7 linked regions of the Homo sapiens genome follow. The protein of the gene in region 4 purifies or fractionates together with the protein of the main gene of each other region. This does not show direct contact. Each region holds a gene or a part of one and is shown on either strand. Other genes may lie near its edges. The genes, in order: TIMM50, SAV1, LRP4, ZNF74, IPO8, SMARCAD1 and TRIM24.

What was found.
Region 1: the proteins of ZNF74 (region 4) and TIMM50 purify together in Homo sapiens (co-immunoprecipitation; one large-scale study listed by IntAct). This does not show direct contact.
Region 2: the proteins of ZNF74 (region 4) and SAV1 purify together in Homo sapiens (affinity purification with mass spectrometry; one large-scale study listed by BioGRID and IntAct). This does not show direct contact.
Region 3: the proteins of ZNF74 (region 4) and LRP4 purify together in Homo sapiens (affinity purification with mass spectrometry; one large-scale study listed by BioGRID and IntAct). This does not show direct contact.
Region 5: the proteins of ZNF74 (region 4) and IPO8 purify together in Homo sapiens (co-immunoprecipitation; 2 studies listed by BioGRID and IntAct, with this or other methods). This does not show direct contact.
Region 6: the proteins of ZNF74 (region 4) and SMARCAD1 purify together in Homo sapiens (co-immunoprecipitation; one large-scale study listed by IntAct). This does not show direct contact.
Region 7: the proteins of ZNF74 (region 4) and TRIM24 purify together in Homo sapiens (co-immunoprecipitation; one large-scale study listed by IntAct). This does not show direct contact.

What each region holds. Positions count from the first base shown.
Region 1 is NC_000019.10:39,486,834-39,491,062, reverse strand, and holds part of TIMM50 (mitochondrial import inner membrane translocase subunit TIM50), read right to left. Parts: intron 3,003-4,229; coding exon 2,846-3,002; intron 2,525-2,845; coding exon 2,418-2,524; intron 1,345-2,417; coding exon 1,243-1,344; 3' UTR 1-1,242. UniProt on the Homo sapiens protein: Essential component of the TIM23 complex, a complex that mediates the translocation of transit peptide-containing proteins across the mitochondrial inner membrane. Has some phosphatase activity in vitro; however such activity may not be relevant in vivo.
Region 2 is NC_000014.9:50,640,504-50,644,732, forward strand, and holds part of SAV1 (protein salvador homolog 1), read right to left. Parts: intron 391-4,229; coding exon 247-390; intron 1-246. UniProt on the Homo sapiens protein: Regulator of STK3/MST2 and STK4/MST1 in the Hippo signaling pathway which plays a pivotal role in organ size control and tumor suppression by restricting proliferation and promoting apoptosis.
Region 3 is NC_000011.10:46,876,976-46,881,204, forward strand, and holds part of LRP4 (low-density lipoprotein receptor-related protein 4 precursor), read right to left. Parts: intron 2,341-4,229; coding exon 2,151-2,340; intron 2,064-2,150; coding exon 1,932-2,063; intron 365-1,931; coding exon 224-364; intron 1-223. UniProt on the Homo sapiens protein: Mediates SOST-dependent inhibition of bone formation. Functions as a specific facilitator of SOST-mediated inhibition of Wnt signaling.
Region 4 is NC_000022.11:20,400,173-20,404,401, reverse strand, and holds part of ZNF74 (zinc finger protein 74), read right to left. Parts: intron 3,771-4,229; coding exon 3,644-3,770; intron 3,126-3,643; coding exon 3,030-3,125; intron 1-3,029. UniProt on the Homo sapiens protein: May play a role in RNA metabolism.
Region 5 is NC_000012.12:30,668,082-30,672,310, forward strand, and holds part of IPO8 (importin-8), read right to left. Parts: intron 3,016-4,229; coding exon 2,881-3,015; intron 1,202-2,880; coding exon 1,102-1,201; intron 1-1,101. UniProt on the Homo sapiens protein: Involved in nuclear protein import, either by acting as autonomous nuclear transport receptor or as an adapter-like protein in association with the importin-beta subunit KPNB1.
Region 6 is NC_000004.12:94,245,439-94,249,667, reverse strand, and holds part of SMARCAD1 (SWI/SNF-related matrix-associated actin-dependent regulator of chromatin subfamily A containing DEAD/H box 1), read right to left. Parts: exon of another isoform or gene 1,115-4,229; intron 15-1,114; coding exon 1-14. UniProt on the Homo sapiens protein: DNA helicase that possesses intrinsic ATP-dependent nucleosome-remodeling activity and is both required for DNA repair and heterochromatin organization.
Region 7 is NC_000007.14:138,578,268-138,582,496, reverse strand, and holds part of TRIM24 (transcription intermediary factor 1-alpha), read right to left. Parts: intron 3,294-4,229; coding exon 2,965-3,293; intron 1,936-2,964; coding exon 1,803-1,935; intron 801-1,802; coding exon 726-800; intron 1-725. UniProt on the Homo sapiens protein: Transcriptional coactivator that interacts with numerous nuclear receptors and coactivators and modulates the transcription of target genes.

The sequences.
Region 1 (4,229 bases), on a different chromosome or scaffold from region 4:
TTAGTTAGAAGCCAACATTTTATTTTTATTTTATTTTATTTTTTGAGATGGAGTTTCGCTGCTGTTGCCCAGGCTGGAGTGCAATGGTGCGATCTCGGCTCACCACAACCTCCGCCTCCCAGGTTCAAGCAATTCTCCTGCCTCAGCCTCCTGAGTAGCTGGGATCACAGGCATGCTCCACCACGCCCAGCTAATTTTGTATTTTTAGTAGAGATGGGGTTTCTCCATGTTGAGGCTGGTCTTGAACTCCTGACCTCAGGTGATCCACCCACCTCAGCCTCCCAAAGTGCTGGGATTACAGGCGTGAGCCACTGCGCCCCGCTAGGAGCCAACATTTTAAAATAGGGAGATTTAATATAAAAATCCCTATTTTAGCTGGGCACAGTAGCTCACACCTGGAATCCTAGCGCTTTGGGAGGCCAAAGCAGGAAGATTGCTTAAGACTAGGAGTTTGAGACCAGCTTGGGCACCAAGACCCCATCTCTACAAAAAAAAAATTTGTTTAAATTAGCTGGGTATGGTAGCACGCACCTGTAGTCCCCAGGAGGGTACTCAGGAGGCTGAGGCAGGAGGGTCACTTGGAGATCACTTGAGCCGGGAGGTCAAGGCTGTTGTAAGCTAAGATCACATCAATGCACTCCAGCCTGGGCAACAGTGAGACCCTGTCTCAAAAAAAAAAAAAAAATATTCCCAAGTTCTTGCTTCTTTTGAACAACTGGCGTGTCAAGCAACTCCAGGCCCCCTTTACCCCAGGGCCACACTGGCTGGAGCCAACCAGCAGCTGGCCTGTTGAGAGGGGTAATCTCTGGTCCACCAGAGGCCCACTAGGCCCATAACACATTCTCTCCACAGTAGCCTGGCAGCTACCTGTCTTTAAAGCCAAGTGCCATCCTCTCTTCCCTTCTCCACAGATGAGGAGTCTGTGGTCAGAGGGAGATGTATTTTTCACAGATCACGCAACACACAGGAAGACACAGCGAGGGTTTTTAGATTCCGAGACCAGGGTGAAAAATCTGCTCTGATCCAACAAAGCACCCCCACTGTGCTTGGCAGCCGATCAGCCACTGTGGGACGATGACCCAAGAGTCCCGGACCTCACCCTGATGCCCCCATCTGGAGACTCTCGGGACACAGCAGGTGTGGCGTCTGGGATGTACTTTATTGGACAAGTGGTGGCCCAAGTCTTGGTCTGGAAGCACTGGGGCCCTGGACCCAGGCACTGAGTTTGAGGAGGCCCAGAGTTCAGGGCTGTTTGGAGCGAGGCCACAAGCGGCTGGTGAGGGAGCCAAGGAAGAGGTTCTGCTTGTTGGACTTGGAGAGCTCGGCCAGGCGCTGCTGCTCCTCCTGGGGTAGGGGGACAGTTGGAGGAGAGGGTCAGCGCAAGGTGGACAGAGCCTCCTCCCAGATGCCCAGGTCCCCAGGCCTCAGCCCAGGGACCACCTTTCCTTCTGACTTCTGCCAAGTCCAGACCCCTTTCCCCAAACCCTGGGGCCCCCAGCCCAGACACAAGGGACCCTAGACCCCAGTCCCCCCACCCCAGACACTAGGAAGAGCCAGCTCTGAGCCGCAGGAGCCTAGGCTTCAATGTTTGGGGGACGACAGACTCCAATACTAGGCACTCGAGGTATTCAGGCCTGAACTGCAGTAGGTTCTCAGGCCCCAGACTGTCATAATCTCCTTCCCCAGATCCCAGGGACCCCTCCCCTGAGCCTGAGATCCTATCGCAGACCCTGTTACCCCAAGGTGAATGCTGGTGAGATCCCAGGTCCAAACCCCATGGCCCTCCTCACCAGACTGCATCATCCTGCCCCTGGGCCCTCTGAGCCCCATGACCCCTCTCTGGATGCAGGGGTGGGGGGTTCCCTGGGGGGTCCCCAGGCCCAAATCTCTAGGGACTTCTCTGGGCACTCAGGGGCTCCCAACTCTAGGAACCTAACCTAGAATCTGGTGAACCTCAGCCTAGACCCCTGGGAATCTTACCCAGACGCAATCCATACTCTCAGTCCCACTTCCAAATTACCAGGGTCCCACCAAGACTATCACATCTCTCCCCACAGCCTTGGGCCACGTGCCCAGGGAGCCTCTTTCCAGGCCTGATCTAAAACCCACAATCCACCTCCACAAGGTGCCCCCAGACCTACTCAAGACCATCAAGGGCAACCCCTCTCCCAGCCTAATCTCAAATCCTCTCCTGTTTCCTGTTCTCAGAGCAGGCTGCAGAATCAATGCATCCCCTCATTCTGGCAGCCCTACAGGACAGGCTGTGTTATATCCCCCTGGTTACAGAGACTGAGGCAGAGAGGAGGTATCTGCTCAGGGTCACACAGCCAAACCAAGAGTGTGGAGATGGACTGCCCCAGGCTCCTCCTTCAGGAGCCTCAGAGCCGATCCTCCACTCTGGGCATCTGAGCACCAACCTGCTCTAGCCGGCTTTGCCGCTGTTTGAAAGCCGCCAGCGGGTCATCCTCCAGGGCATAGTGCTCCAGCACGGTTCGCACGTCCTCCACACCATTCAGTGCAATGGCTGTGGGCACAACAGGGGGTGGTCAGCCAGGCTTCTAAAGGCCAGAGGGAGGCAGGGCCCATGAGGGGAACGTCCCGCACTGGGGCACGGGGGCAGTCAGTGCTACCTGGAATGCTTCTGAACGCTCTGAAAGGGCTCCCCTGAACATCCCCAAGTATCCCCCAAACATTCCATGAACATCCTAAGAAGCTCCTAAAGACTCCAAGGTGCTCAGGCACCTCTTGCACCTCAGTCGCCCAGCCATGAATCATGCATTTATCCTTCCTCTTCAGAGTCAGGGGCTCTGGGGTCAGAGGCCAAGGGATCAGGGGTCAGCCTTACTCTTGAGGAAGGCAGACAGATCCAACAAGACCCGGTCATCAGAGTTGCCGTCCCAGGGCCGCAGGGCAACGCCGTTATAGGGCTGCAGGCGGAAGGCTTCCTTCTTGCAGTCCACAACTACTACTCGAGCTGGGTCCCGATTCAGACATGAAATATCCTGGAAGTGAGTGACAGATCAGGTCAACATCTGTGCCCAACTCTCCCCCCATCAAGAAGACCCAAAACACACAAAACATACATACATACACAGCATCACACATACTGGGATCACAATGGCAGGGCCTCTCAAAGACCGGCTTTGGATGATGGCATCGACCCCCACAGAGGGCCAGGCATGGTGGCTCACGCCTGTAATCCCAGCACTTTGGGAGGCCGAGGCGGGCGGATCACCTGAGGTCAGGAGTTCAAGACCAGCCTGGCTAAAATGGTGAAACCCCGTATCTACTAAATACAAAAAATGGCCGGGTGCGGTGGCTCACGACCGTACTCCCAGAATTTTGGGAGGCCAAGGTGGGCAGATTGCCTGAGCTCAGGAGTTCAAAACCAGCCTGGGCAACATGGCGAAACTCTGTCTCTACTAAAAATACAAAAAATTAGCTGGGTGTGGTGGTGTGTGCTTGTAGTCCCAGCTACTCGGGAGGCTGAGGAAAGAGAATCGCTTGAACCTGGGAGGGGGAGGTTGCAGTGAACCAAGATCGCGCCACTGCACTCCAGCCTAGGCAACAGAGCGAGACTCCGTCTCACAAAAAAAATAAATAAATAAAAATAAAAATAAAAATTAGCCAGGCATGGTGGTGTGTGCCTATAGGCCCAGCTACTCAGGAGGCTGAGGTGGGAAGATCGCTTGAGCCCAGAAGGTTGAGACTGCAGTGAGCCATGTTCATCACACCACTGCACTCCAGCCTGGGTGACAGAGCAAAACCCTGTCTCAGAAACAAAAAACAAAACAACCCCCAGGATATTGGGGAGCTAATCACATAGACTTCTAGACCCAGGGCCTAGCACACAGAGAGGTGATTAGGAAGTTCCCTGGAGAGGGAGGTGGCCACTCTCGTGTTTAACCCCTGCCCAGGTGACTGTGGTATGTTGCAGGTTTAAGAACCTCTCACTCAAGTAAACAGGTGCAGACAGATCTGCAGCCACACCCAGGGAACCACACAGACAGGCACCCAGACACAGACCCTTCAAGACCCTCGATCACAGCCCACGTATTTTGGAATTTCCAAGAGCAACACAGAACCCCCACCCCGACACGACACAGACAGAAACCAACAGACACACAGACACTTGGAGCCAGACCCACAGAGGCCCATTCGCAGATCCGGACTCCTGAATACAGCACTGGCCACAGTAACAGAGCCCGGGTCAAACAAACCCCAACCAG
Region 2 (4,229 bases), on a different chromosome or scaffold from region 4:
TCCCTAATAGCAGAGGCCCGCACACAAAGAAATGAAGATTCTATAAATGTCTGAAGAACTAATATTTCTAATTAATGATTTTCACACATTATAAACTATGACATCCTTTATTCAAGTCACGTATTACTTAGAAGCCGAATATTATTAAGAGTAAAATATGGCACACTACTTGGATCGAGCAGCCCAGAGACTCCATTCAGCCCTTCACTCACTCCTCAAACAAATTTGTGTTGTAAATGTACTTACTTCACAGGGGCTCGTGCGTAAACCTGAAGCCAGTCAGGAATTTCTGCAGTATGATATGGATTTGCAGGTACCAGAAGGGACTGATTTCTTTCAGTTTGCTGTGGCTGGTATGTGACAGGAGGTGGTTGATCATACCGAGGTACACTAAGAAGAAAGGAGTGACATTCTTTAGGATAAAGGTCTTAAAATCTAAACAAGAAATTATAAAGAACAAATAATACTTAAGCATTTTTCAGTGTGCCTTCTGTCCAAACTGACTTACACCACCTGAAAGGTAATGTATTTTTAAGATATTTCTTCTGGCTGGTATTTAGTCTTTTCAAAAACAGGTTCAAAGGAGGATATGAAAAAGCTGGAACTAAGTTTTAACCTTTATACAAAGGCTTAAAACTAGAATAGTAAATTCCCACAAGAAATAGTCATCAGCTGTAAATTCATATCAGAAAGGTTGACAGTTTCTAAGAAAGGATGTTTCCTTCCTCCCGTAGGCTGAAAATGGGGGTTAGGATATGTAGTGACGCAGCAGTGAGTATTGTGTTTGAAATATCTCTATCCAATGCAGATAACTTTTCAACTTTTACCAACTCAAGAGAACATATGGGAGTCAGAGTTGATCAGAACCTATTTTAAGTCACAGAGATTAAAAAAAAAAAAGACCATACTTTAGTTCTAATAGCCTGTGTATGCTGTGGGGAGTGGAGATATTATATGGGAAAGTGTAAGGAAAGCACTGAACCACCTGAAGGTTAATAGCTGAACTCGAAGCGGCCAAAAGGGTCTATTTGAGACCAAAAGGGGTCTGCACCTTCAAACATAAAGATTTATGTGTATATGTGGCCAACAAGCATATGAGAAAATGCTCAACATCACTGCTTATTAGAGAAATGCAAATCAAAAGCACAATGAAATAAATACCATTCCACATCAATCAGAATGGCTATTATTAAAAAGTCAAAAAATAACAGATGCTGGTATGGTTGCAAAGAAAAATGAATGCTTATACACTGCTGGTGGGAACATAAATTAGTTCAGTCACAGTGGAAAGCAGTTGGGAGACTTCTCAAAGAACTTAGAACTATCATTCAATCCAGCAGTCCCATTAATGGGACTATTTCTACAAAGGAATAGAAATCATTCTACCATAAAGAAACACGTGTGCACATGTTAATTGCAGCACTATTCACAATAGCAAAGATACGGTATCAACCTAAATGCCCATCAATGGTGGGCTGGATAAAGAAAATGTGGTATGCAGACACCATGGAATACTACCCAGCCATAAAAAAGAACAAGAGCATGTAGTCTGCAGCAACACTGATGGAACTGGAGGCCATTATCCTAAGTGAATTAATGCAGGAAGAGAAAACTAATACCACATGTTGATAGGTAGGAGCTAAACACTGAGTACACATGGACACAAAGAAGGGAACAATAAACATTGAGGCCTACTTGCGGGCAGAGGATGGGAGAAGCATGAGGATTGAAAACTACCTATCAGGGACCGGGCGTGATGGCTCACACCTGAGGTCGGGAGTTCGAGACCAGCCTGGCCAACATGCAGAAACCCCGTCTCTACTAAAAATACAAAACTTAACCAGGCTTCATGATGCATGCCTGTAATCCCAGCTACTTGGAAGGCTGAGGCAGGAGAATTGCTTGAACCTGGGAGGCGAAGGTTGAGGTGAGCTGAGATCGCGCCACTGCACTCCAGCCTTGGCAACAAAAGTGAAACTCCGTCTCAGAAAAAAAAAAAAAAAGAAAAGAAAAACTACCTATCAGACACTATGCTTATTACCCGGGTGATAATCTGTACCAAATCCCCAAGCCATGCAATTTACCCATGTAACAAACCTGCACATGTACCCCTGAACCTAAAATAAAAGTTAGGGAGAAAAAAAAGAAAATGTGGTGTATATATAACAATGGGGAGAAAAAAATGCATGTGTATATTAGAAAAGGTCACTGTTTACTAAACTGGGATTAAAATAAGGTTAGATTATGCTGTGGTTAACAATTTTAAAAGATCAATATGCAAATGGAACTGAATTCTATCTTCAACTCTTCTTTCCTAAATAGGTTCAAAGGAAAATGTTCTTTGATAGTACAACTGGGGGTGAAGAAGAATTGGGACTTTGAAGTCAGGTACGCCTGGATTTGAACCACAGCTTTAACACTTACAAACTATGTAAATGTAAGCAAAACTCCTCCTATCCCTAAGCCTCAGCCTCCATACTTGTAAAAGTGGAATAATAAATTCATACCACAGGTGGTTGTTCTCAGGATTAAATGACCTAATGTAAGTCAAGAATTTTGTATAAGGATTGGCCTAAGATAGACAACCAGACAACTAGTAATACTACATATGTGAGCTTAAGGGCAGCGTTTATTCTCTCTTGTTCAACTTCTACCAAGTTGCTGAGAGAAGTAAATTAACTAATTATGAAATTGCTTTTAAAAAACTATTAAAATTCTGTAATAACATAAGGTTAATGATGATTGTATTAGTCTATTTTCACAATGTTATAAAGAATTACCTGAAACTGGGTAATTTATAAAGAAAAGAGGTTTAATTGACCCACAGTTCCATAATTGGGAGGCCTCAGGAAACTTAAATCATGGCAGAAGATGAAGGGGAAGCAAGGCACATCTTACGTGGTGGCAGGAGAGAGAAAGAAGGGGGAACTGCCACACACTTTTAAACTATCAGATCTCATGAGAACTCACTACCAGAACAACATGGGGGAAATGGCCCCCATGATTCAATCACTTCCCACCAGGTCCCTCCCTTGATACATGGGGATTACGATTTGAGATGAGATTTGGGTGAGGACACAGAGCCAAACCATGTCAACGAACAGAAAAGTAAACTCTCAAATCTGGTTATCTGGACTGCAACAATCATTGCCACCTGATGACCACACCACAGGTTTGATTCTTTCAAAGGACAACAACCTCAGTAGTTGAATAAACACTGATTGGGTGCCACTACATGGAATCATGGGAAAAAACAGATTTTCAAAGTTGAATTAATAAATCCAAATACATAAAATAATTAAAACAACACAATAATGATAAAGCTTAGTTTTCCAGTTGATAATCCTAAAACACATTTTCATAACTATTTTAATGGTTCTAAGAAAATACAAATGTCCACTATAACCAAAAAACTGTATTATGCCAGATGACACTAAGCAACATTTATCAAAATGCAGATGATATTTTACTCATTTTTAATCTTGTGGCTCAGCTTTTGAAGCTCAAATGTGGTTAATTTGAAATATTTGCAACTTCATTACTAAACTAATACTAGCTTTTATGTACTTTGAAATCCAGTGTGTATTTACACTTACAGCACATCTCAATTTATATTAATCACATTCAAGGGCTCAACAGCCACACGTGACAACTGGCTATCAGGCAGCACAGGGCTAAAAGTCTGGCAACAAAGCAGATCTACCCAGCCCAGTATCAATCAAAACAGCACAAAGAATTACTGGCTATATTTATTAAACAGAAATGGGATGTTTTGTTCAGTCCCAATTTTCACTTTCTTGTCTAGTAATAGCAAGAAACAGAACATACAATCATGTCTGAAATAGAATAAACAGCAAAATGTTATAATTCAATTGTACATTCTGACTTAGGGGGTAGGTCTGTTATTATTTGTAAAAATTTAAGTGTAAGAAGGCAGAAGCTTTAATTATTTAATTTTCTGGACACCTATAACAAAAACATTCTGGCATTACTACAGCAGAATCTGATCATAAGAACAATGATCTTGTTTTTGAGGTTTTTTTAAAGAGAAAAGTATTTTTTTAACTTATTAAAGTCATTTATTACTAAATGTATGTCCAGAGAAAAATGTAAATTTTGAAATATAAGGCTTTCAAATCTCAAGCTTTAGGATGCTATTCTCTTAGATGAAAATATCAGTTCAAAACCTAACATTAGACAATCCCGAAACAAAAAGTTGAAAATAAAGT
Region 3 (4,229 bases), on a different chromosome or scaffold from region 4:
TAGCAGGATAGCTCTTGGCAGAGACGGAGAGAAGAGGGCCCCAAACCATGCTCTCACAACCAAAGAGAGAGTGCTAGAGAGACAGGGACAGGGGCTATGCCAGAGGGAATGGGGAACAAACACCCTGGCTCTTGGCAGGAGACAAAGGTGGTGGGAGAGGAAAGACAGTAATTGTTGAAGGGCAGGGACAGAAGGCCAGGTGGGAAGAGAGGGCCATACAGACCTTCCTGGGGGTCTACTCCAATGGCAATGGTGTTCTTCATGGTAATGTTGATTGGTACCACCACATCAGCAAAATAAGGGATGTCCAGGGAGACCATGCGAATGTCTATCCTCCTGGCGAAGATGAGGAAACTGTTCATGCCTGCCAGGTGGAGAGGAGGGAAGAGGATCACTCGAGCACAGCCATTAAATGGATTTGGAATCAGGCAAACTGAAACTCATGCCCTGTCCCTGCTAGTTTCTAGCTATGTTATTCTAGGCAAGTTATTTAAATTATTATTATTTTTTGAGACAGGGTCTTGCTGTGTCGCCCAGGCTGGAGTGCACTGGCATGATCATGGCTTACTGCAGCCTTGACCTCCTGAGCTCAAGCGATCCTCCCACCTCAGCCCCCTGAGTAGCTGGGACTACAGGCACACACCACCATGCCCAGCTAATTTTTGTATTTTTTTGTAGAGATGGGGTTTCGTCATATTGCCCAGGCTGGTCTGAAACTCCTGGGCTCAAGCCTCTGCCCACCTCAGCCTCCTAAAGTGCTGGGATTACAGGCATGAGCCACTACTCTCAGCTTAAATTATTAGGCCTCAGTTTTCTTATCTATAAAATGGGGACAATAATGGGGTGGCTGTAAGGGTTAAAAGATCATGTACATAAAGCACTTACCATTAGGTCTCACACATATTCATAAATAATGCCTCTTTATTAATATTATGAAAGTGGCTCTCTTTGAAGGACCCTTTACCATGAAGATTAAGAAAGAGAAAAAAAGAAAGGGAATAAAGGGACCCCAGGGGGCTTTACTCACAACCTGAGAGGCACAGTTCACAGCTCCTTTCTCACTCAAATTCCCAGGGAGGTTAGAGTTCAAATGCAGCCTACCCTGCAGCATCTCCTAGGGAGAAGCCTTGACTTCCGACATCTGGGTAGCCAGGTACTGCTTCTGGGACCCTCCAATAAGGTTGTCACATAGGTTGTGCACTCACAAAAGTGGCACATCTAAGGAGGAGGGTACTGTGACATTGTAGATATCATACATTTCTGTTTTTATTATACCAATTTTGGGCAGTTAGAAGTGTCTTTTTTTTTTTTTTTTTTTTTTTGAGACAGAGTCTCACTCTGTCACCCAGGCTGGAGTGCAGTGGCGTGATCTCTGCTCACTGCAACCTTCACCTCCCAGGTTCAAGCAATTCTTCTGCCTTAGCCTCCCAAGTAGCTGGGATTACGCGCCACCATGCCTGGCTAATTTTTGTATTTTCAGTAGAGACGAGGTTTCACCATGTTGGCCAGGTTGGTCTTGAACTCCTGACCTCTAGTGATTTGCCTGCCTTGGCCTCCCAAAGTGCTAGGATTACAGGCATGAGCCACCGTGCCCAGCCAGAAGTGTCTTATTCCAACCAAATCAGTATATTATGACAATGTACTAAGAGATGAGAGGAAAGTGTCTTGAGAAAGGAGCATCTTTATCTAATATGCATGAAGACATCATAAGAACTAGTTGGACCCTGCCTCCAGTCCTTTCTACTTGCTCCCCAGGGCCTCTCCCCAGGCCCGTCCCCTTTTCTAAAAGCCGTGAGTCTCTCCCCTGGGCCTCTAGAAGCAGCAGGACTCATGGTTTCTCAGACCACATTGGAGCCCATCTGCAAGGAAGGAAGAGAGCCATTGCCCCCTCCCAGAGAGGCTGCATCTAGATCTGTGATGCTTTCACTCACCTGGTGAGCAGGTCTTGCCATCAGACAGCAGGTTGATGCCTGTGGGGCAGGTACAGCTGAATCCGCTTGGATTTGGGGACCTAAGACACAGGTGGCTACAGCCGCCATTCTCCATAGCACATGGTGTAGACACTGGGTAGAGAGGAGGGGATGTTCAATGGGGAGAGCTAGGGCATAGGAGGGCCACGGAGAAGCCAATGCGAGCCAAGGGCTGCTCACCTGGGGGCCGGCGGCGGTGGAAGACATGGATGTCCATTAGGTTTTCCAGGTTCTCCTGCAGAGTCTCCCGGTCCAGCCCTGTCAGCCGGTCAGCGCTCTGTATGCTCTTGGTCTGCCAGTCAGTCCAATAGATGCGCTCTCCATAGAGGGTCAGCCCAAATGGGTGGGGGAGCTGGCTTCCAATCAGCACCTGCCAGGGCCCCAACACTGTGTCATCTTCAACAAAGTCTGACAGTACAGAGCAGTGGCAAAGAGCTCACTGTGGACTCAGAAAGCAGCTCTCCCACTAACACCTACTGGGTGACCTCCAGTAAGAGCTACTTATAAAATCTCTCTGAGCCTTGCTCTATCAATCTGTGACTTGATCATGCCTGGCTCTAAGGGTCGTGTGATGGTTTTATTGGAAGATGTTGGAAGTCATCTATTACTCACATCATCTCAAAGTATCTCTGGACAAATTACTTATTAAGTACAAAATTAAAAAATAGCAACTTTACAGTGGACACTACCTTAACCATACAATGGCAGTAAGTATCACAATAACGGAACAGGCCAACACCTGTGTCTACTGATGAGACACACTGAGAACTCAAGGACATGACTTCACTTAGTGTAGTATTCCTGCTGCAAATGCACACTCTGAATCCAATCACAAGGAAACATTAGATAAATCCAAGTTGAGAGACATTATAAAAAATAACTGGCCTTTACTCTTTAAAAATGCAAATGTCCACTTTGGGAGGTCCAGGTGGGCAGATCACCTGAGGTCAGGAGTTCGAGACTAGCCTGGCCAACATGGCGAAACCCTGTCTCTACTAAAAATACAAAAATTAGCTGGGCGTGGTAGCGGGTGCCTATAATCCCAGCTACTTGGGAGGCTGAGGCAGGAGAATTGCTTGAACCCGGGAGACAGAGATTGCAGTGAGCTGAGATCGCACCATTGCACGCCAGTCTGGGCGACAGAGCAAGACTCTTGTCTCAAAACAAAACAAACAAACAAAAAATGCAAATGTCAATAAAGTCACAGAAAAGCTGAGGAAATGTTCCAGATTAGAGAGTAAAGAGACTAGATTAGTTGGGCCCGGTGGCGCACAGCTCCAGCTACTCAGGAGCCTCAGATGGGAGGATCACCTGAGCCCAGGTCAGCATGGGCAACACACCAAGACTGCAGTCTCAAAAAAAAAAAAAAAAAAAGCTATGTGTGGTGGCTCATGCCTATAAACCCAACACTTTGGGAGGTCAAAGCAGGAGGATTGCTTGAGCCTAGGAGTTCAAGACTAGCCTAGACAACAAAGTGAGACCCCCATCTCTACAAAAAATAAAAAAATCAGCCGAGTGGCCTCAAACCCGTAGGCTCCTGAGTAGCTAGGGTGCAGTAGTAGGTGCCTGTGGTCCCAGCTACGTGGGAGGATCCCTTGGGCCAGGAGGTCGCAGTTACAGTGGGCCATGTTTGTGGCACTACACTCCTGCCTGGGCCACGGAGTGAGTGTCTAAAAATAAATAAATAAATAAAAATTAAAAGAGACGTAATTACTAAACACAATGGGTGATCCTGATTGGATCCTAGATTAACAAAGAAAAAAAGTGGGGTGGGAGGAGCTATAAAGGACATCACTGAGGCAATTGGTAGTGAAATTGGGCAAGGACTATGATTAGACAGTAATATTGGGCCGGGCATGGTGGCTCGTGCCTATAATCCCAACACTTTGGGAGGCTGAGGCAGAAGGATCGTTTGAGGCCAGAAGTTTGAGACTAGCCTGGGTAATACAGGAAGTCTCTACCAAAAAAAAAGAAAAAAACTAGCCAGGCGTTATGGCTCATGCGTGTAGTCTCAGCTACTCAGGATCCTAGTAGGTCGAGGGTGCAGTGACCCAATATTGTGCCACTGCACTCCAGCCTGGGTGACACAGCATGACCCTGCCTCTAAAAAACCAAAAAAAAAAAAAAAAAAAAAAAAAAAGACAGTAATATTGGATCAATGTTAGATTTCCTGATTTTGATCATTGTACTGTGGTGATGTAAGACAACATCCTTGCTTTTAGGAAATGTGCACAGGAATAGTCTGGAGTCAAGGGCAGG
Region 4 (4,229 bases):
GCTATGATCATGCAACCGCACCCCAGCCTGGGCAATAGAGGGATACCCTGTCTCAAAAAACAAACAAACAAACAAAACCCAAAAAGCTGTACTCTTCCTTTAGGTGAAGACAGTTGCCCTGTGTGCTGGGTTGGATGTGTCTCCTCTGTCAAAGGGGGAGGTTTCTTTCTCTCCTGTACACCACATCTGGTTAAACACTTATTCAATAAGAAGGCTTTCTTTCTTTTCTATCTCTATAGCAAGGTTTTCTGAGCTGGCAGGAGATTTTATTTCTAATTCTGTCCTCCCCAGGCTTAAAAGGGAGCAGTCTAGTGCAGCGGGCAGAGCTGCATGGTGGTGCTGCCTGTGGCCCCAACACATGCAGAAGAGCAGGGCAAGTGGAACTGGCCATGGCACACATGGCAGGTAGCCAGGTGGAGAGTGAACAGCATGTGCAGAAGCTCAGAGGTGAGACAGTAAGATGAAGACAAGACACGCAGAGGCAGGAAGGCTGAGAGGTGACCCTGGCAAGGTGGATGGGTTCGAGGTGACCAGATGCCTGACTCAGAGGGCAGCCGGGGAAGAAAGGCCTTTTGCACAGAGGGTGATGTGATCATATGGTGTCTTGACGGGGGGCGGGGGAAGCAGAGGGCGGGGACACAGTCTCGCTCTGTTGTCCAGGCTGCAGTGCAGGGGTGCAATCACAGCTCGCTGCAGCCTCCAACTCCTGGGCTCAAGTGGTCCTCCTGCCTTGGCCTCCCAAAGTGCTGGGATTAGATGTGTGAGTCCCTGTGCCTGGCATAATGGTTTGTCTTGAAGGTGGCTTTGGTGGTGTGTAAGGTGGTTGGAGCCAGCAGTTAGGGAGGCCAGTTAGGGAGGCCATCTGAATAATTCAGGTGAAAAATGGCAACTTCAGACTGGAACCAAGGCTGTGAAAATGAACAGGAAGCAGCAGATCTAAGAGCCATTTAGGTGCTAAAACTGATGGCCCTAGCTGTTGACTGAAGGTGGCAAGAGAGGAAATGGGGGAGAGGATGAGACCTCAGCAAACACCCAAGCCTGGGTGGATGGTGGAAGCTTTTATAAAGGAGGAGGAAGGGCCAGTTCCAAGTCTGGTTTTAGACATGCAAGCAGAGGCCCACGAGATGGTCAGTGACACAGGGCTGCAGCTCAGCTGGTGTTGCTATAGTGTAGACCACATCCACACCAAGTGAGAGGTAAGAGTCTAGGGAAGTTGCACAGAGCAGAGAGAAGAGGCCCAGGCCAGAAAAAAGTTGTTTTGGCAGCAATAGGGCCAACAACACAGCAGGGCACATTCATCTAAGGGATACTGTGCAATCAGTAAACATCACGTGAGGACGCTCACTATGCCATGGCCAGTGTGGTAGCCAGACTCCGGCGTGAGTGCTGTGCTTCCGAGGGTGCATAAGGCTTTATTTATTTATTTGTTTGAGATGGAGTTTAGCTCTGTCACACAGGCTGGAGTGCAATGGTGCGATCATGGCTCACTGCAACCTCTGCCTCCCGGGTTCAAGCAATTCTCCTGCCTAAGCCTCCAGAGTAGCTGGGATTACAGGTGCTCACCACCACGCCCAGCTAATTTTTTTTTTTTTTTTTTTTTGAGATGGAATTTCACTCTTGTTACCCAGACTGGAGTGCAATGGCACGATCTCAGCTCACCGCAACCTCTGCCTCCTGGGTTCAAGCGATTCTCCTGCCTCAGCCTCCCAAGTAGCTGGGATTACAGGCATGCACCACCATGCCCAGCTAATTTTGTAATTTTAGTAGAGACAGGGTTTCTCTATGTTGGTCAGGCTGGTCTCGAACTCCTGACCTCAGGTGATCTGCCTGCCTCGGCCTCCCAAAGTGTTGGGATTACAGGTGTGAGCCATCACGCCTGGCCACATGTAGCTTTAGAAGTCTATCCGCACACAGAGGAAGGGCCCAGAGGAATCAGTGACATGGTCAGTTATTAGAGAACCGTCATCTCTGGGTGGAAAGATTATGCAGGATTTCAGTAACCTTTCAGCCTCATTTTCAGTATATTCATATATGAATCAAACAAAAATATGAATTTTTTGAAACCTGTAATCTTGTTAAAGAGGACAAAGCAAGCATCAGAGGCTGGGGTGAGAAATAAAGACCAGAAAGCTGGGGCTGCAGCCACTGTTGCAGGTTGGGGCTGGGTGGTATGTGGCAGTGGAGGGGGATGGAGGAGGGGCTGCCTTCCCCGACCCCCGTGTTCTGTGCTCCACAGCTTATCGGCTGCCTTTCCCACAGAAAGGTGTTTCTCGAGCTTTCTAGACACCTAACATGCTCAGCAGTCACTGTCCAATAAATTAAGCCGAATTTACCACTTATTTATCAACCAACTCAGAAGAGAAGTCTACAAAAAGAATGTTGGAGAAGAAAAGCAGACTACCTTCTGCTCAACACCCACCCCAGTCCCCTTTCCCTTACGGAGGGCTGCCATCTTGGCCACAGCCTGGAAGCCCTCGCTGACGTTGACCCTGACCCTGACGCTGATGCTGACCCTAATGCTGATGCTGACTCTGACCCTGACGCTGATGATGGCCCTGACACTGATGCTCACACTGGCCCTGATGCTGATGCTCACGCTGGCCCTGACACTGATGCTGGCTCTGACCCTGACGCTGACGCTGGCCCTGATGCTGATGCTCATGCTGACCCTGACACTGACCAACGCCAGCTGCCCCTTCCCTGGTGGCCCCCTGCCCCCAATCCCACACCCCCGGCTGCCCAGCCAACACCAATGGCTCAATATTTCTATTCCTGCCTCCCCATCCCCATCAGCAGGTGACCATTTGGTCCCAGTGGCCAGGTTTGTTCCCTGTTGTATCCCAGAACAGGTCTCAGCACACAGGCAGTGCTCAGTACGTGCTGAAGGGAGGCAGGCAGGAGGGTCTGGCGGGGGACCTGAAAAGGGGAGATGGAGCCGGGGCAAACTGAGGGAGGAAAATAGGGGCCATAGGAGGAGGTGCCACCAGGGGTGCTGGGGCTGGCACCCTTCCACCTGTGCCTCTGCTCACCTGGACAGGGCCCTCTGGGGACTTCCCTCTGCATGCTCCATGGCTCCTCGCCTCGTTCCAGATGAGAGATCACATCTGGCTTGTGCAGTGGAGGTCCTGCTCGTGGAGAGAAAGTGGGCTGGGCATGCTGCAGCTCTCCAGGCCCAGTCGACCTTACAGGCCGCCCCCTAACAAGGACAATGCCTGTGAAGTGGACACCCTCTCTGGGAACAGGAGGTCCTCTGGGCCAAAAGCAGTGAGGGTCTCAGACTGGAACCCAAATCCCAGTGTATACTCTGAAGACCCCACGTGTGCTGACGTCCTTACTTCATTGCTTGAGGACTGTTCCAGAGCCAGCTGGGCTCCAGGGTCCCACCTTCTTCTCTTCTCTCCCTGCCCCTATCCCAGGACCAGGGGAAACACCAAGCAAGGATGCTACCAGCTCCCACGCTGTCCCTTGGGGACTTCTGGCGTGGCCGAGGCCCCTGGCCATGAGTGCCCCAAGGCACAGGCCTTGCTTCCCACCCCATGATATATCTGGCACCAGGGCCGGCACTGAAGGGATTCTCCTTAATATCTACCATGTAGAAGAAGGCTGACAGCCGACGCCCAGCCTGGGGCTGGGGGGATTTTACCTAGGGCAAGAAGGTTCTGGTAGTTCTCCAACATCACATCCCGGTACAAGGCCCTCTGAGGGGAGTCTAGTTGACCCCACTCCTCCTGGGTGAAGTCCACAGCCACATCCTTGAAACTCACCGATTCCTGAAATGACATATAGGTTCTCACCCAGGACTGATTCTGTGTCCATGGTTCCAAAGGAGCCAGAGATTGATTAAGGACCCTACAAGTAAAGGGTTAACCTCAGGTGACCTTCTCCCATGCCAGAAGGTTGTGCTGTAGACACTGACCATGACTGAATTCGGGGACCAGGGGCAGGGAGGGGGGCTGGGAATTGGCATGCATTCCCACACCACCTTCTAGATTGGGAAAGCAGGTCTGAATAGACACCACAGGGCCCTGGCAACTTGCGGTGGGACCCAGGGGCTGTACATGGCTGTTGTATCAGGCTCTAAGTCCTGGGTGAGATGCTATGCTTCCTGGAGTCAAGAATTTCAAACTTAAAAATTTGAGAGAATATTAATAGTACAAAAATCCCAGCAACTCTATTCAAAGCTCAGTAACGCAAAAGGATCCGATCCCAGACTAGAAACTGTTATTACA
Region 5 (4,229 bases), on a different chromosome or scaffold from region 4:
GAATGGTTGGCTAATCACTCAAAGCAAACTAGAAAAACAAAGGCATAAGAAAGGGGAAATAATAAGTTACACATATGAATAATGATTTTCAAAAGAAAAATAACAAATCAAGCAGATGATAAATGTTTCTCATTGATTTGCTTTTCTGATACTTTGTCTCCAAGAGAAAACAGGATCCTCACTTACTGAATCAAATAATATAAACACAAAGCTCTGTAAAAACACAGCCCAAAAAACTAGCATCTGTACCAGTAGGTTTAGCTTACGTAGCTAGACACACCTGGCTCAACTAAGGGGAAAGCACTGCTTCATTACAGCACTTTCAGCACGCAGCGCTAGATTTAGCAATCATTTCTTTCAACATGTATTGAAGGCATACTGGAGGCCAAGCACTAGTGGAGGAATGCAGAGGTGTAGAAGAGACAGAAAATGCAAAATTAAGCAAATAAGGTAAAATTCCTGTCCTGAGAAAGCTTCTAAGTTGTGGGAGATAGGTATGCAAATTAATATTTTGCTATGTTAAGTGCTTGAGTGTTCCATGAAGCAATTAATACAAACTGGGAATAAAAGGGAATAAATCAGGCCACCTACACAATTCAACAGTTTCCAGGAAGATCCAAGTTAAAAGGACACCCAAAGAATTGGACCACACACAGTAGGGCCCCCATACGAAATTTATTTCCCTTGTGGAACACTTAGTCTCTCAGACAAGCAAGCAAACCAAATTGGGGTACCCCTAAAATATGCAGAAATCCAAAGTATTTCCCACATGAGAACAACCCAATCTATAAATGAGTCTCCCAAAAGGCACAAAAACGGATGGTCCCTGCAGATCAGCATCGCAACAGCATAAGTAACAGATGGCTCAACTTGAGCACCCGTAAGAGAGATGAATGAGGTGGCTTTTCATCTCCCACATCCGACAATCTCCAGTTCTCTAGTTCAACAAAATAACATCAAACTCTCAAAGTTTCAGATTATGTCATGCAAAACAGAACCTGGGAGATTTAATAAAGTAATAACATTTGCTTAAAAATATAAATTTAGTTATATTACTTTACATATCCAGGAACTGATGAGAAATAAAACCATCTCAATTACCAAATTTCATCCTTATATACTCATATGGATCTTCTTGCCACAGCTCTTCATCCTCATCTTTATAACACATCACAGAAAAAATCACATCTTCAGAGATATTCTAAAATGAGAAAAAAAAAAAAACGTAACAAATGGGTATAGGCTATTCAAGTTTGAGGAATACTAATAATGTACTTGTTGACAGCCTTTATGATGTTAGTTTTCCAAACTCTGTGTGTGTGTAAAATGTCAAGTCGAGGTTATATTTACTATTATAGTTCTTATTTTGAAATTTTTTTTAACATTTCCATTTTAGTCCTAAATGTCCATGTATTAACAATATTAAAGGGCCAGGCATGGTGACTCATGTCTGTAATCCTACCTCTTTGGAAGCCCAAGGGCAGAAGGATCGCTTGAGGACAGGAGTTCAAGACCAGCCTGGGCACTGTAGCGAGACCCCATCTCCAAAAAAATACATAAAAACGTAGCCAAGCATGGTGGCGTCCATCTTGGAGGGTCTCTTGAGCCTAGGAGCTCAGGGCTGCAGTGAGCCATGATCATGCCACTGCAGTCCAGCCTGTGCAACAGAGTGAGACTCCAGCTCCAAAAAAAAAAAATTGGAATTTTCTTTACTTCTATTCCCAAAAAAACTAATTTCCTACTCCACAAATGTTTCAGTTAGAGAAAAGTCCTATCTACTAGCCTCTCTGTGCACTGCTACTAATGTCCTATTAAGCCCTTTTAGGCTCTAACAACAATTTATATAAAAACAGGATCATCTCTTACCACTTAATTCCAAATTAAATAATTCTAAGTGAAAAAATTCAGCCTAAGGATCAGCGTTTTCTTATTCCTACTTTACAGCTATGTAAAAATAAAGCCAAAGGTATGAAGTAGAGAAGAAATGTTATCACAACTCACCCTTACTTTACAGGAACACAGCAAATGAAATCAGTATCTTTATTAATTAATTGCAAAGAAATTATCACTATTTGATCAAAGTGATTAGGCAAATAGTTATTAAGATATCTACATAAATCAAAGAAAAGATATCTGTTGGTAAGACGGGTAATAACACTAAAATTCTATCCTGGACAGCAAACAGCAAAGTGAAAGATTTTTCTTTTCAGATATCATTTATAAAATTTAAGAATTCACAGTTTGGGAGAGAGTAGGTATTCAGTTCCTAAGACTGTCAAATTATCCAATTATTTGTATACAAGGAAGTATTTATTTATTAGTGGCCTATAATTTTCCATTCCCATTTGTTCTTTAGCTAAATAACAATACTGAATTCTACCTTTAGGCAAACGATATAGAAACAATGATGCTATTGAACTTAACAATCCAAGAAAATAAATAAAAACCTTGCTCATACCTACAAAATAAAACGGTCACATATCAGTCTTCAATTCCTGCAAAATAACACTACCTTAGTAGAGCCCTGGTAAGTTTTCAAAATACTTTCTCACAAAATACCTCATTTAATCCTAGCAACTTTTAGATAAGAATAGAAAAACACTATGTGCCTTAATAGAGGAGAAAATGAGGCTTAATGAGATTAAGCAAGATCAAGTGAATCCAGGTCTCCCGACTCATAAAACTTGAAGGCTTCACTTTTCTCAAATGCTTAAATTTCTAAGCCCTTTATATCTGACATAGGACTTCACTCATTAGAAATTATTAATGGTAAAATGTATATATATAAAATGTAAAATATAGGATTAGTAATACTAACTTTGTCTAGAAAACCTAATTTAACCAGAGAATAATTTTGGAGAGCTGCTCTCTGACACTAACCTGTATGTGTGGCTTCATCTGCTTCCAGGTTATAGAATGAACCACCCCTTGGTTGAGATAGTTGAATGCTTGCTGAAGAACACGGGGAGCTACATATTCTTTCTGTCTATATTGATCTAAAATTTTTAGTAGCACCTATAAGAAAACAGAAAATACAGACTAACATAAACAATTATAAGGTTAAAAGGGGGAGGTGCCATTTTTGGCATGACCTAAAATTCAGAATCCATAGAAAAATAAACAGATTTGGGAGAAAAATCAATGTTTTGTAAGAAAGCTCAGATAAACAGCTTTAATTATTAGATAGGTCCATGTTATATTGAACTAAACGGTGTCTCATTGTAACTTCCAGGCAAAGTCTAAATTTCTATTCCACTGCTAGCTCTTCAAAGTAAGTTAAAACTCCTGTTTAAAAAATTACAATAACAGGAGCCGGGCACGGTGGCTCAAGCCTGTAATCCCAGCACTTTGGGAGGCCGAGGCGGGCGGATCACGAGGTCAGGAGAACGAGAGCATCCTGGCTAACACGGTGAAACCCCGTCTCTACTGAAAACACAAAAAAATTAGCCGGGCGTGGTGGCGGGTGCCTGTAGTCCCAGCTACTGGGGAGGCTGAGGCAGGAGAATGGCATGAACCCCGGAGGCGGAGCTTGCAGTGAGCCGAGATCGCGCCACTGCACTCCAGCCCTGGGTGATAGAGCGAGACTCTGCCTCAAAAAAAAAAAAAAAAAAAAAAAAAAATTACAATAACAGATCTGACTAAAGAAACATTAAAAACTTCCATACAACAAGAGACAGCACAAAGATGTTTCTTTATTTCATAAAGACTTCTTCAAATTAGAAGAGAAAAGTTGTTCAAAAAATAGTATTGGCATAACTGATTAGCCCCCTGAAAAAATTTAAATTAACTCCCTCAACTTCACACCAAAATAAACTTCAGATGGGGAACTATTTTAACACTGACAAAAAATGATAGCACAGGATTCCTTAAAGAAAACATGGGAGAATTTTCTTTTATAATCTCAGATTATAAAAGAAGGTATTTGTAAACACAACACAACTGAGAAGTTATTTTTTAAAAACTGATTTTTTAAAAACTGATTTAAAAAATTATTTATAAGGAAAAAGCCATGCCAAAGCACCTCTGAACTGGCTCAAGGACCTTTAGGCAACTTTCTTCACTACAGTAAGTTGCCTTCCAATTCCTGGTCTCCAGAGCTCTTCACCATATCAAGCTTATAAGTGAGTTGCTGAATAAATAAAAAGCATTCTTTCAAAATAGGTACAGAAATTATAAATTCAGAATATGGATTTTATTCAAGTTTCCTAAAACTCAGGTTTACCAAATTT
Region 6 (4,229 bases), on a different chromosome or scaffold from region 4:
TTTGATTCCTCTCCCTAATGGGGAGAAAAAAAAAAGAAAACAATTTAAGAGATATCAATAACAATGGTCTTAAGGCAATTATCATTGTATTTTGACTTGATCTGAAAATTATCATCATCAGTCAGAAGAATCCAAACTGTTTCTTTTTGTTTCTGTGAACATTGACATATTTATGTCTTTAAGGATGAAAAATATTGCTGACTTAAGATCACTGAAAGACCCTGATTGCATATCCGGTAACTCAAACTTTATTCTCAGTGCTTAAAATGAGATAAATCTCCTAAAAAACTAGAATGATCCTCAAATTAACTCAATATAATTCAAGTATACTGATGCCTTCTCCAAGACAACGGTAAATTTTAAAAGGATACAAATATCTCATCTATGTTCACTATTATATATCCACCTATAAATTTCAAATTCTGAGAAGAGTTTACTTTTACTTCACTCTTGATTCACAGAATGGCTTAAATATTAATTGTTCAGTCACAACATAAAACTGAAACAATGATAAAAGGAATTTAAGTGGAACTAAATAATGTATAAACCGAACAGATTAATTAATATGAGAATTGTGGCTATACATAGTCTCACTTTTCCTTCTTCTCTGTCACTTAACTTCACTTGAAGAAACTGGTTAAAGTCCACATTTAAGCAAAAAGAAAAGACTCCTTGTGTTCATGCATAGGAAAAATTTTAGTCAATCAAAAAGCATTTTTCTACTCTGCTTAGAACTGCACCACATGCTATACACACAAGATGGAGAAAAATACAATCTTCTTCTTCAACCTCCTTTATTATCCAACAACTGAATTGCTATTTTTCTCTTTCAGTACCTTAGATAGAAATAACTAAATTCTGATACCTCCTCTGCACAATGGAGTAAAATAAAATTTCATAAAACAGAGACCAATAAAATGCTATGGATATCTGGACTAAAGAAGAAAATTGCATGTGTTTCATAATACTAAGTGGTCTACTTGGGCTCAAATGCAGAGAATGTTAATAGGTTACAAGGATGAAGAATTAAACCAGAGCTAACATGGAATAAAGCCTAAGGTTAGTCTTTTTTAAGAAGCAACAGGATTTTGAGCAGGGGAATAATAAGACATACTGGTGAAACCCATCTGGAGAAACCATTTCAAAATCTTCAAAATTCATACTGCCACCTTTACAGCCCAGGCACACTGAAATTCCAAGAACAGTATTTTAAAGCTCACAGATGGACAACAACCAGCTGAGGAGGGAACAGATCCAAGTATCTAACTCTAGACCACTGCTTTTTCACTACATAAGTGAAAACTAAACTTCAGTTGTTCATTTGTTAATATATCAAATGTGCGTCATGGACAAATTGTGGTAAACACATAAAATGGAATATCACTAAGTCATAAAAAAGAATGAAGTACTGATACACACCACAACATGAATGAACATTGTAGTATATCTGAAAGCATTATGCTATGTAAGAGGCTAATAAAAAAGAACAAAATCATGTTCTTCGCAGCAACACAGATGTAGCTGGAAACCATTTCCTAAGCAAGCTAATGTGGAATCAGAAAAATCAAATACCACATTTCCCACTTATAAATGGGAGCTAAACATTGGGTACACGTGTTCATAAAAATGAGAACAACAGACACTGGGGAACACAAGAAGGCGGAGGGAGGATGTGGGGGAAGAGTTAAGGAAAACTACCTATGGAGTACTATCCTTACTATCTGGGTGACAGATTCATTCATACTTCAAACTTCAGCATCACGCAATATACGTTTGTAACAAACTTGCACATGTACCCCAATTCTAACATAAAGTTGAAAAAAGAAAAAACAAATAAAACACATTTTTCTGAAATTAAAAAATAAGAGGCTAGACATAAAAGGTTACATATTATATAATTCCACCTAAATGAAATGTTCAGAATAGGTAAATCCAGAGACTGAAGGCAGATTGGCGGTTGCCAGGGGTTAGGGGGAGGAGGGAATGGGGAGAAACTGCTTAATGGGTATAGCATGCTATTACGAGGTGATGACAGCGTTTGGAACTAGACAGGAATGATGGTATACAACACTGTGAATGTACTAAATAGCATTAAATAGTTCACTCTAAAATGGTTAATTTTATGCTATGTGAATTTCACCTCAATAAAAAAATACATAAAATATCTGGAAAACAGTAAACAGCTCTTCGGAATCAAATATTTAGTAGATGGTGTGCCTATCATGTGTTGTTTGCTCTTGGGTCCCACACTTATGCCAGCTCTGCTTATCCCTGGTGACTGAATATACTCATGTGGTCCAGGAGGTTACACAGACACTTTACAAAAGCTAGCTGATAAAATTTGGGACTGTATCTGTCTCAGCGGGCCCAAGGGATATGATTCGACCCAGTGCTTATTTTTCCATCTCCAGAATCATAGTTGGAACAGACATATTTGGCACTGGCAGAAATCCCATACTATATCAGTTCCCTGACCCATGATGTATGGGCTACTATTATAGGAAACACCAAATCCAAGTCCCTAGAATTGTCCCTCTCAATCAAAACAATAAGCAATTACTACAGTCCTAAAGGAACTGCAGATATTGACACCACCATCCCATCCCAATGTAAGATGCCTCCTTGACCTATACAAAAAGTAGATGAGTCTTGCAAGTATTTAAGAGTATCATAAACAATCAAACTCCAGCTGCAGCTGCTTTACAGGATGTGGTATTTTTGCTGGAGCAAATCAATATGGCTATGCAGTTATCAATCAAGTACTTGCTTTTTCCCCTTTCCCAATTAGATCAAACAGAAACAATCCGTTTTTATCTTGGCAGGTTTAATGATATACCTTCAGTCTTCAGAGTTAGAGTAACTTTCCTGGCTCTCTCAAATAATACAGTACTCATGGACTTAGATGGTTTTGCACAGTCTAGAGAGTATCACTTGATCCACTATACTGACATCATGTTGACTGGACTTGATACAGGTAGTGGGTATTTTCAATGGTACTGGTCAGATACGTACATGCCACATATCAGGGTGAAGGAATAACCATCCTCACTCTGAGGCCCACCACTTTCGTGGGAGTGTAGTCTGGAGCATGTTGCAAACTCCACTCTTAAGAAAAAAGAAAGGCCGCACCTATCTGCCTCTTTAGACTGGACATTGGGAGCTCACTGCACACTGGAGGCAAGATATACTTCATTAGGGTGTGTACTGCTTGATTCATTTTATAAAATACCTCTTAAGATTGTCAGTTATGGCTGGGCACGCTGGCTCACGCTTGTAATCCCAGCACTCTGGGAGGCTGAGGCGGGTGGATCACGAGGTCAGGAGTTTGAGACCAGCCTGGCCAACACAGTGAAACACCGTTTCTACTAAAAATACAAAAAATTAGCCAGGCGTGGTGGCAGGCACCTGTAATCCCAGCTACTCGGGAGGCTGAGGTGGGAGAATTGCTTGAACCCGGGAGGCGGAGGTTGCGGTGAGCCAGGATCATGCCATTGCACTCCAGCCCAGACAACAGTGCGAGACTCCATCTCAAAAGAAAAAAAAAAAAAAAAGAATGTCAGTTATGAATGGGGCCCAGGTTAAGAGACGGCTCTGTACCAGGTCCAGAGTGCAATACAAGGTACTCCGCCACTTGGGTTTCGTGACCAGCAGATGCAATGATTCTCCAAGAATCTGTTGCAGGTAAGGATGTTGTATGAAGTCTTTGGCAAGCCCCAGTGGGAAAATCGTTTTAGAGAGTTTTAAAGAAAGGTCATCATGTCCTCTTCTACTGACCACAGTCAGTTTTGCTGTGACACATATATTTCCAAAAATTACTGCATTATGCAAAATTGTTAAAAATTGCAGCCTTTAGGAGAAAAACTGTTAGAGATACAATGTCAAAAACTTCATCAGTGACATATAAAAAGAGAAGGCAATCTAATAAAAATGATACAATTTTACACACATTAAATAGTTAATACCTAAATACTACAATAAATATGAGCTGAAGTTTGCTTGTGGACATTGGAAGAGTTACAGCTTACGAGTTATTGTAAAGTGGCAAAAAACAGGTTATCTGAAAATGAATGGAAATTTTTAACACCAGATACAGAAGGTTGTAGCTCACTGTCCTTGTGTTATGTCTGCTGTACTAACTTAAAATATAAAGAATAAATAAAATTTCTGTGGTGTTGCCAGCCTCCTCCTTTTACACTAAAGCTGCCTGTACGGTTCCAAATTCATCCGGA
Region 7 (4,229 bases), on a different chromosome or scaffold from region 4:
GATCTCGGCTCACTGCAAGCTCCGCCTCCCAGGTTCACGCCACTCTCCTGCCTCAGCCTCCCGAGTAGCTGGGACTACAGGCGCCTGCCACCACACCTGGCTAATTTTTTGTATTTTTAGTAGAGACGGGGTTTCACCGTGTTAGCCAGGATGGTCTCTATCTCCTGACCTCGTGATCCGCCCGCCTCGGCCTCCCAAAGTGCTGGGATTATAGGCGTGAGCCACCGCGCCCGGCCACAGTCACATCAAACTTTCAATATGAACCTTTCTGAAGTCAATAGCACCTGCGCACATACTTCCTCAACTTTTTTTGTATTGGTAACGTCTACTTATTTACTTGAAGTCTGGACCTATAAAGAAAAATAAGTACGGAAAATGTAGCAGGGAGAGATGTCTTTATTTCAAAGTTTTTTTTCCAACAGCTTCGGAAACATGCCTAAAACTCCTGAAATACAGAAAATTAACAGAAATCACCCTAAACATCCCAGTGGTAAGTAAAATAGATGAGAAAAGAAAGAAGAAAGAATACCTGAGAAATGAACAGAAGTTTTGGGCCACTTACTAAAATGTACCTACATAGGATCAAAGCATTCAGTATGTATTATTAAGATTTAAGGTTTAGATATTAAAAAGTACTGAAAAATGGTAATATAAGCTAGATTCTCATAAAATTCCAGAAAAGCATTCCACTGTGTAAACATGCAGAAAATGACATTAATACTTACAGTTAGAGGAACAGGGTCTTGAAAAGCCAGGCTCATTTCATGGCAGTAAAGAAATAAAAGTAGGCGCTCACACTTCTAAGCAAAAATAAATAAAAACTGAGATAAAATATTATAAAACAATGAATTCACAGCTTATTTTAAATAACAATCTCAGAGGTCCCAAAGTGTCAGACTAAAAATTAAAACCCAGATGAATACAAAAAAATTACTGATTCTCGGAGTTTTGCTCTCCTTCCCAATATTTGGGAACAGGCCCTGTAATTGAATGAACTAAGACAATCACTAGAAAACCATTTGAAGTTTTCTAACAATAAATTTGCACTTATTGCTCCAGTCTGTGTATTATAAATTAGTAATAGTCTATAAAGGAAGAACGTACGTCTCTTAGGAGAACTGGAGGTGGACCTTCTCAATATGCATCCAGACCTAAGGCACCTTTCTGCATGCCGAAGGTCCAACCATGTGCTCTGCTATTCATATACTTCCCTGCTTTATGGGTTTATCCCAGTAACCACTGAGTAGTACTGGCAGTGAATGGGCACGTCCCCTCTTGCATGACAACTTTCATATTGACTGTTCTACTTAATAATTTAGCAAAGGAGTTTTTTTGGTAACAAAGTGTTGACTTGGTAGCTTTAAATGTTATTTACAGTTAAATATATCAGTTGGCTTTGATGCATAAGTCTAGTCCCATTCAGTGAAAAAAAAGGAATTATTTCCAGGAAGAGTAAAGAAAAAACCCAGCTCCTTGGTGGCAGTTCTAAGGAAAAATCTTATCTATAGTAGGAAATAAAACAAAATAGAAATTTACTTAAGGTAGATTAAAAGTCTAGGGTACATATTCCATCTTGTTCAGGTACAATAAGCTTCTATAAAATACATGCATTAATTCTGTGATTTTTTTAATTTAAAGAAAGTTACAGTCTTTAAGATTCATGTACCTTTGTAAACAAAAAAAAATACTCTTAAATAAAAAGGATCAGTATAAAATCTGGATGGATATACACCTCTTTGACAAAAGGTACCACAGTACAATATTGCACTACAATACAATAATGCATCTTACCAAAGACTTACCCTTTTATCTATAGGTGTTAACTTAACAAGGCCTTCAGTTTTCTTTTTTTCTGAGTTGTGACTGGGAGCATCACAATCATATTCAACTTCTGGTTTAGATAAGTCTCGGCAGAAAGTGCAAATCCACTCTCCACTGTTAGGGGACAATGTACTTTTGAATTCCTAATGCATCATTTCCTCTCTTCACTATTTCCCTTTCCCACCTCCTCCATGACATCTATGATACAGAATTGTTCATTTGGCATGAATTTTAATCACTGAGCATTTACCACATACCACTAGGTATACTGCACCATGCTGAGAGGAAACAGCAGAAATATAATGCAAGGGCCTAACAAACATCAAAATCTAGTTAAGAAGGTGTGAGATACATATATTGAAAAAAAAGAAACACCTAAACAAATTTAATCTAGGGCTCACATATCTAGGGCATAATTGAATTTTTTTCCTCCAAAGGATTCAGGAACTAGAAAAGCTCTTTGTACTATTCTTGTTACTCTTAAGTTTATAAAATTAAATTTTCAAAAGTATGGCCTTCCAAGAACTGAGAGATCAACCCAATGGCTCTTAACCATCTTGGTCATGATGATGATCATCATCCCCATAGGGTATGAGAATTTACTTGAAATACTTGTAAAAGATACAGTTCGATGCCTGGCAAAAAGACATAATAAACTGTGGTAGCTGTTATGCATAGGGACATTGTTCCTTATGATGATCCCTTGTGATAATTTAAAGGGCCTGTTATTTTTTTTTCTTTTTGTAATGACTAGGGAGAGGGTCTTGCTCTGTTGCCCAGTCTGGGGTGCAGTGGTGCAAGCACAGCTTACTGCAGCCTTGACCTCTCAGGCTCAACCAATCCTCCCACCTCAGCCTCCTGAGTAGCTGGGACTACAGGCATGCACTACCATACCCGGCTAATTTTTTATTTTGTACAGACAGACAGGGTCTCCCTGTGTTGCTCAGGCTGAATGATTAGTTTTTTGAAAGAAGCACAAAGAATAAGCGGAAGGGTATGGGAAAACCTAGACTATTCATTGGGATTTTGGAGTATACACTTGTGCCAAGTGGAATTTCATTTAAGTTTTTTCAAAGGCTTTCTGTTAAAATAATCTTCAAAAGTTTACAGTAAAAGAATGTGGGAAGGGAAGTACTATCTTACCTTGGAAAATTTGTCAATGTGGGCACATGACAAGAAAGATGGAATACTTTGGGGCACTTTTCACAGCAGAGGAGTTCCCCTCCGTTTTGACAAACTGCACACCAGTCCTCATTGGGGTCATCCTCTTTCCTTGTCTCTCCAACATGAAGAGGTGACTTCTGGGAAGGATCCAACCATTCAGACTTTCCATTTGAGGAATTGTCCTGGTGAAGTCCAGGTTGATCTCCTGTACTATCAGGGGCATCTGATCTTAGCACAGTCTCCTCAGAAGTAGAGCTCTGACTGCTATTTAAGAGCAGGGAGGTGAGTATGCTTCTTGGATAATTGGCCTGTAGTAGAAAAAAAATATATTTAACTGGCTTTAAAAAAAATTTTATCACTAATGCAATTCTGAACTGTAGACCACTCTCTGGTGAGCACCTGGCTGCTTCAAAGGAATCTTCAGGAGAAGGGTATATGTTTATTGCTAACTGGCTTAGAAGACATGAACCTCTACTAAAAAATACCAAAATAAATAGAGAAAAAATCTAAGTCTGGGGATGGCTACAGAAATTAGAGAATGGGTTGGGTAGAGTGGAAGTCAACCACATGACCTATATATATATATATATACCTCACTGGAGCTGTTCATTCAAATTATACCTAAGATACAAAAATTATAAGATGAATCTAAACTTTCTGTTGAAGCCCAGGATGGTGAAAATTTCAAATCAATAACAAAAACAATCTCCTTCAAATGTTTTCAAAAATTTCAAAGTAATAAATGTAGATATAGTTAAAAGCACTTATTCCTTGGAAGAACTATTTTCAAACCTAGCTTTTTCTTCTGCTGTTTACCTCCATATTTCTAAATAAAATGATTGTTAAAAATTGCAATACATCTATAATCCTTACTAGTGAAGATCAGGAGATTAGGTTTTTACATTCTGATTCTCCAACCCCGTCCTGCTTCCATTCGTGCGTGCGCGCACACACACACACACACACACACACACACACAAAACCACCACCACCACCATTCACCCCATCCCTTTAACTTAGTTTTGATTAAGCATTGATTGTTTTAGTTGGTAGGTACTGGTATAACTGTTTATTGCCAGTATCTATTCTAACTGATCAGTATTTGTCTTGTACTGGTTAAGTATTCTGAAAATCACAATTTTTGGTTAAGTGCATATTCAGGTTATATCCTGATTGCATCACAGTTTTTAGTTACATTCGTACTCAGGTGTTTGTTTACATCATTATTATTATTATTTAAATAT